2 linked regions of the Homo sapiens genome follow. The protein of the gene in region 1 interacts with the protein of each later gene in a pairwise test. Each region holds a gene or a part of one and is shown on either strand. Other genes may lie near its edges. The genes, in order: THAP10 and PTS.

Region 1 (3,600 bases):
TAAACATGATTAATAGACATCAGTGGAACACTATCCAAGTGCAGTACGCACATTCATCTCAAGTACATATGGAACATTTAAAAAACTATTTTGAGCATGTTACAAGTTTCAACAAATTTCAAAAAATTAAGTCCATATATTGCATTTTCTCTGGCAGTAGTGTAATTGACCTAGAAATCTATTGCAAAAATTTAACTAAAAAATGCCCAGAGATACGGGAATTAAAAAATATACTTCTAATTAACCCACGAATAAAAGATAAAATCACAATGGAAATTAGATATTTTATACTAAATAATAAAAATACTGCATACCTAAAACTTGTAAGATTCAGTAAAGCCATGTTAGGTGGGGACTTATAATCTTTAATGCATATATTAGGATAGGAAAATTAATTGGGCTTAATTTAGGTTAGAATTATTAATATCATGCAAAAGGTATTCCACAAAATATCTCTAACATAGCCCCCTCTCAGGACCCAGATTTTCCTCTATCAACACCACTTTACTGAATTCTACATTTGTGAAATAAGCTTGTGAAACTTAGCTGCACCATTTAACATTCACCATAAAAATTCTGAAAATCAATGATATAATTTAACTTCTTAAGAAGTTAAAGACAGAGCAGTGGACAAAATTTTAAAAAGCAGAGGAAGGGAATAATGAATAAGTGAAATAAATGAAAAAAAAATTCTAGAGAGATCAACAAGGCAAAGTTTGTTCTTTGGAAAGACTAATAAAAATTGATAAACCGGTGGGGTGCGGTGGCTCACGCCTGTAATCCCAGCACTTTGGGAGGCTAAGGCAGGTGGGTCACGAGGTCAGGAGTTCAAGACCAGCCTGGCCAAGATGGTGAAACCCCATCACTACTAAAAATACAAAAATTAGCTGGGTGCGGTGGCAGGCACCTGTAATCCCAGCTACTCGGGAGGCTGAGACAGGAGAATCGCTTGAACCCGGGTGGCAGAGGTTGTAGTGAGCTGAGATTGCGCCACTGCACTCCAGCCTGTGTGACAGAGTGAGCCTCTGTCTAAAAAAGAAAAAAAAAAATCGATAAACCATCTGGTGAAGCTGATCAAGAAAAAATGAAAAAGCAAAAATTACCTCAGCTCAAACAGAATTTTTTTCAAATACAAGATTATCATGAAGGTTTTGTGTCAATACATTTAAAAATTTAGATGGAACAGACAAATTAAAAAATACTATTAATCAAAATGGATAAACAAAATACTATTTATCAAAATGGATAAACAAAAGAACTCTGAATAACCTTATAACAAAGAAATTGAATCCATCATAAAAAACCTTTCCAAAAGGAAAACTCCTGTCTTATCAATGAGTTCTACCAAATATTAATACCAAATTTATTAATGGATATATGCCATTTTATATAAACATTTCCAGAGAATGAAAAAAGAAGGAACAATTCCAAATCTGTTGGCATAATCTTCATACCAAACCTGAGAAAGGCATTCCAAGAAAGAAAAAAACTGTAGAACAGTTTCACTCGTGCACACAGATACAAAAATCCTAAATATTTTATTTTAGCTAATATTTTATTAAGCAATATGAGAAAGGAATAAAACACTTTGACCAAATTGAGTTTATTTTAGCCATGCAAGTTTGACTCTACATTTTAAAACCAATCAATATAATTTACTATATTAACATAATAAAAATGTTATCCTTAATAGATTCAGAACAACCATTTGATAAAATTCACCATTATTTATAATCTAAACTAGAAATAAAGGGGAACATTTCTTTTTATTACAAAGAGAGCTATAAAAAACTATAGTAAAAATCATAATCAAATGGGGAAATATTAAAGGCTTTCCCTCTGAAATTAGGAATGAGAAAAGGATTCCCCTCACCTCTTCTGTTCCCACACTGTACTGGACATTCAAGCCAGTGCAACAGGAAGAATACGAAATAAAAACACGAATATCAAACGCTTTTCTCAGATGATATTTTTGTACATGTATAAAATTCAAGAGAATTTATAAACTATTGAAATTAATAAGTGAGTTTAACAAGGTTTTTGGATACAAGTTCAACAAAAATTAATTTATCAATATGCACTTATAGATTATAAAATTTAAAATACCATTTATAGTAGCAAAATCAAATAGCTGTGAATAAATCTAATGAAAGATATGTAAGACCTCTACATCAAATGCCACAAAACACTTCTAAGAAAAATTTAAAAACCCAAATAAATGGAGATATATGTTCATGGATTAGAAGAGTCAATATTGTCAATATGCCATTTATTCCCATATTCATTTATGAATTCCATGGAGTCATAATCAAAATCCTCGTGAGTAACTTGTGAAAATTGACAAATCAATTCTGAAATGTATCTAGAAATCTAAAGAGCCCAACATAGTCAAAATATCCACAAACATGAACAAGGTAAGAGGTATTAATCAATTGAATATTCTTAATAAAGCTATATAAGACACTGTGATACTTTTGCTTAGGCAAACAGATAAGTGAAACAGAATAAAGTATGTGGAAACAGACCTATGCATATAAAGGGCACTTGATTTATGACAAAGTTGACATTGCAAGGCCAAGAAGAAATGCTAGTAGTTTCAATAAAAGATGCTGAGTCAAATGGGTATCAATGTTGGGGAAAATGAAACTTAAATCCTACCTCACACCAAACACAAAAATCAATTCTGAATTAGATCTAAATATAAAAAGTAAAAACAACAAAGTTTATTACAAACAGCATAGTAAAATGTTTTAAGTATTAAGAATAAGGAAAATTATTGGTAATTTGGACTACATCAGAATTAAGAACTTCAGTACATCAAAAGACATTATTAAGAACCAAGAGGCAACCCATAGTGGGAGAAGATAAAAACATTTAACTGAAAAAGGACTTCCAGGTAGAATCTATTAAAAATTCTAAATCAACAAGAAAAGACAGACAATCCAACAGAAAAATGGGCTAGATTTAAAAGGGCATGTCACTGAAGGCTACCTAAATATCCAATTAATATTTGAAAAGGTGTTTCCTTACTAATTTCATCAGTAATCGGGGGATGAAAAGCAAAAACATTACTACGCACTCTGCAAATGGACTCAGATGTGAAAGACTAGAAATCCCACGTATAGGCAAGAATGTGGAACAATGGAAACTATCAAACTTGTGGTAGAAGTGTAAATTGGTACAAGTATTTTAGAAAACTATTTGGTATTATCTACTGAAGTTTAATGTAATACTATGACCCAGCAATTCTAGGTATATATCCTCAGAAATGTGTGCACACGTGGACCAAAACACATATACAAGAGTTTATGGTAGTATCACTTATGATAGCCCCAATGGGTAAAAACCCAAATGTTCAACAATAGACAGACAAATTTTGGTATATTCATACAATGGAATACTACATAATAATGAAAATGAACTACTGTTCTATGCAACAATATGGATGAATCTCAAAAATGTAATGTTGAACAAAAGAAGCCAGACACAGAAAATGGCTACAGTATGATTTGATTTATATGAAATCCCCCCCCCAAAAAAAAGCAAACTTGGTTACCTTTGAGGAGAGGGGAGGGGCTGGATATGGGGTGATATAGGGAC
Region 2 (4,067 bases), on another chromosome or scaffold:
TACAAGGCAACTTTACAAAATTTCAAGTTGTAAAATAAAGTCAGGCCCAGCTGTCGGTAATGATTAGGAATCCTTGTTACTGAATAAAAAGAGGTGAGAAACCAAAAAGCAGAGAATTCCTGGAGCTTTCTCGCAACACAAGCCATTGTAATTCAGAATTCAGTTTAACACTTTGTGAATCCTGTCCAAACAGTTAGCACAAATATTTTTCCATAACACTGTCACACCTACGGAACAATGCCACAATATCATAAGGACAAAGATCCAGTGACTACTACATTTTATAAAGCAGACCTAGACTGAAATTATGTAAGTAGTTCTAAATTTTTGCTATGAGGAATAATTTAAGAATGATCTTGGGCTCATAGAAGGAAAAATATATATATGTAAAGACTATTACTCCCTAATGCTCGTGTATATTAACATAATGTTTTTCCTCATCATCAGCAAGGATTAAATTGCCTCATTCTTTCTAGGTTTTTGCTTTTAGCTATTGCAAAAAATCTAAGCATCTGTGAAAAAAAAATGTAATTTTCCATAGGACGTAGTTTGAAGAAGGGTACATTAATAACAGTAACAGCAATCATTTCTTGAGAAAAACTAGAATCATACAAAAAGAGTAAGTCCTAGATCAAACAGTTATTGAAATATATCCAATGAAGGGATGTTCCACATGAATAACAAGAAAACGGGCATCCTTGCTTCATCTTCAATCCCAGTTCCAGTCCCAATTTCTCCATTAAAGCCTCTTATGCAGGGCTTTTTGTTTTCTTTTGTTTTGTTTTTAGAGACAGGGTCTCTGTCATCCAGGCTGGAGTGCAAGTGGCATAATCATAGCTCACTGCAGCCTTGAACTCCTGGACTCAAGCAATCCTCCCCCCACGGTAGAGCTCTAACTTTACTCTACATGCCATGATAAGCCACTTTTACTGATGAAAGTGTGTGGTGTCCTTCAGGCATACAAAAGCAGAAAACAGCATAGAGAAGCCCTCCTCCAGTATTTAGTCATATGTTGAGGCCTTTTATGTTGCTGTCTTGTCTCTTTTCTTTCTTTTCTTTTCTTTTCTCTTTTTCTTTTTCTTTCTTTCCCCTCCCCTCTCCTCCCCTGTCCTCCCCTCCCCCTCCTCTTCTCCTGTCTCTGTCTCCCTCTCTCTCTCTCTCCGCCTGCCCCCCAACCCCTGCCCCATAAATGCATGCTGGCCCTATCTGTATAACTTTCCTAAAGTATTTTGAGCATAGTGCTGTTTCTTCATTCACTCATTCTTCTACTCATTTATTAAATCAACAGTTATTTAATAATATTCTTCACCTCCTAGAAAAAGTAATGTATACACTCTGTGGGCTACATCTCATTCATCTTTGTACACTTAGCTCAAAAACTGATGCGAAGTAGAGAAATTTGTTGAATATATGAATAAGTAATGTGAAAGAAGTAATCATTACTAATAACATCATTTTAATCAAGCAAATGTCAAATCTCAGAACAAACCTAAGCTGCAAGTGAAATGACAGCATAATAAAACAGCTGGAAGGAAAGAAATCTACTCCCAGCTTTGCAAATGACTAGCCATATGACCTGGGGCAAGTCAGTTAACTGTTCAGCATCTCTCAATCTTAATCTATGGGTTGAAGAAGTTGGTCTGAATAATCTCCAAAGTCTCTTACAGTGCAAGAATTCTATAATGACACAATCAGTTAAGTTCTTCATTGAACACCTTGTGTGTTATCTCTATGAGGTACTGCTCTGGTGAGTTTATAATAAAGCTAGAATGAACAACACAGTGTGGTGTCTAAATCTATGATCAAAGGTACAAGGAATATTCAGAGAGGGAAGAGAAAGCTCCAAGGAGAAGGCCAGGAGCAGTAGCTCATGCCTGTAATTCCAGCACTTTGGGAGGTCAAGGCAGGAGGTGTCTGAGACCAGCCTGAACAACATAGTGAGACCCCTACCTCTACCAAAAAGAAAAGTTTGCATTGGTTCTGTGCCTATTTAAAAAAAAAAAAAAAAAGAAAGACAGTAAGTCTCAAGGAGAAAGCTATGTCTTAAAAGAAATGGAGAATTTGTTAACTGAAGGAAATCAGGATATTCCAACAAGGAATACAAGGTGAGCATGTTATATTTCCTCCCATCGCTGTAACACAACTGTGACTAATTTCCGTTAAGTCACCAAAACACCTTTAGAGGCCATGCGAGCAGTTCTTCCAACTATTCCCCAACACCCACATCCAGTTCTATTCACAAAGTCATGGAACCTTAGGAGATAACTGGTTGGGGAGGTAGATAGGGGGCCACCAAATATTACAGTTAGGGAATAGCACATAATAAGCACCCAACATGCCATTACCTCCATATATTTTTTGAGATCAGCCAGATTCATAACCATTCCCGTAGCAGGGTCAATCTAAAGAATAAACAAAGGTGAATATTACTGTGATAGGCTCTCCATATTAAACGGCTGGCAAATTATTAAAGGCAGTACAATGTGCAGAGACTGTGCCCACATTTGCACATTTGCCTTCATCCCAGAGATAATCATTGACCTCAGCATGGAAGCACCATGTACTTCAAGCATCCTTTTCATTGTATAGCCCTTCTACCTGTCCACATACAGCATATTAAAGACAACACTTTGGTAGAGGAGAGGCCTGGAATGGCGGCAGCTCACCACACACACATATACAAGGGCCAACAATGAAGCAATACTGACTGGAACAGTTTTCAACACAGAATCCACCACACTGGCTGAAAGAGAGCCCAGCAATCTGCAAAAACCACACAAATATTTTCTGCACATACCTCTCCATGTACTGTCACCACAACTATGGAAAGAAAACAAAATACAAAAAAAACAGCATGACTTTCAACAGATCAACATCCAAGCACAAGTTAGCAACATACAAGCACAAGTTGGCAACATAAATTATTAGATCTGTCCCCAAAAGCTATACTTAAATATTTACCCCAAAACATCTGTTATTTTAGTTAAGATTTTTTTTTTAGCAACCAAAGCAAGACACAATCGAGACAAAGGAGCTTAGTAGGAATGTTGGCTAAGCAGAGGCACTCGGCCAAGGCTGAAAAGGGTGTAAATTCTGCTTATGTTAATGCACTAGGGAGCATCAAGATGCTGCTCAGTCTCTGCCTGTAGAAGTAGAAAATGTCTTTCAGGTGTCCAGCTACACAGCAAGCTGGTCCAATACTGAGCAGTACCTTTCTGAACAAGCAATACTACTGGGCCTTAAATTCTTGTCCCCTTACTCACATGAATGTATACAAAGTCTAAAGTAATGCTTTGTAAATTAAAAAGTGCTTGTGAGAAGCATTTGAAAAATCTTGGCCAGGCGTGGTGGCTCAAGCCTGTAATCCCAGCACTTCGGGAGGCCGAGGCGGGCAGATCACCTGAGGTCTGGAGTTTGAGAGCAGCCTGGCCAACATGGTGAAACCCCATCTCTACTAAAAATACAAAAATTAGCCAGGCATAGTGGCGGGCGCCTGTAATCTCAGCTACTCGGGAGGCTGAGGCTGGAGAATCGCTCGAACCTGGGAGGTGGAGGTTGTAGTGACGGGAGATCACACCATTCCAGCCTGGGCAAAAAGAGTGGAACTCCATCTCAAAAAAAAAAACAACAACAACAAAAAAAAACTTTATCAGTGCTTTACACATTAATAACTTTTATGAATTTATGTATTTTAGTTCTGTACAAATACCATTAGATATTACATGTAAGTGAGTACACTGAGACTGAGATACCATAGATTAAGGAAGAGGCTGTAGCTAAACCAGTAATCCTAATCTCCTGACACCTTGTCTGTTTTTTTTTATGCCACCACACCACATACTGTTTTATACTCTACGACTTATGTACCTGTTTTTTAAGGCAGGCTGTACCTCAAAGAATCAAGTCTCTTATCCTTGAACAAATTACCTACTTTCTTCGAACACTGCTGGCAAAGCTTTAGACCAAACCTATTTTTCTGCCATACATTACATTCCTAGGCAACATTCCCCTTTTGTCAGTCATTATTTACTCAAAGAATAAAATCTAATTTTAACATTAGCCTTGGC

What was found.
Region 2: the proteins of THAP10 (region 1) and PTS interact in binary tests that used the Homo sapiens proteins (3 or more experiments, as listed by UniProt).

The regions. Positions count from the first base shown.
Region 1 is NC_000015.10:70,885,834-70,889,433, forward strand, and holds part of THAP10 (THAP domain-containing protein 10), read right to left. Parts: intron 1-3,600.
Region 2 is NC_000011.10:112,228,961-112,233,027, reverse strand, and holds part of PTS (6-pyruvoyl tetrahydrobiopterin synthase), read right to left. Parts: intron 2,821-4,067; coding exon 2,798-2,820; intron 2,403-2,797; coding exon 2,346-2,402; intron 1-2,345. UniProt on the Homo sapiens protein: Involved in the biosynthesis of tetrahydrobiopterin, an essential cofactor of aromatic amino acid hydroxylases. Catalyzes the transformation of 7,8-dihydroneopterin triphosphate into 6-pyruvoyl tetrahydropterin.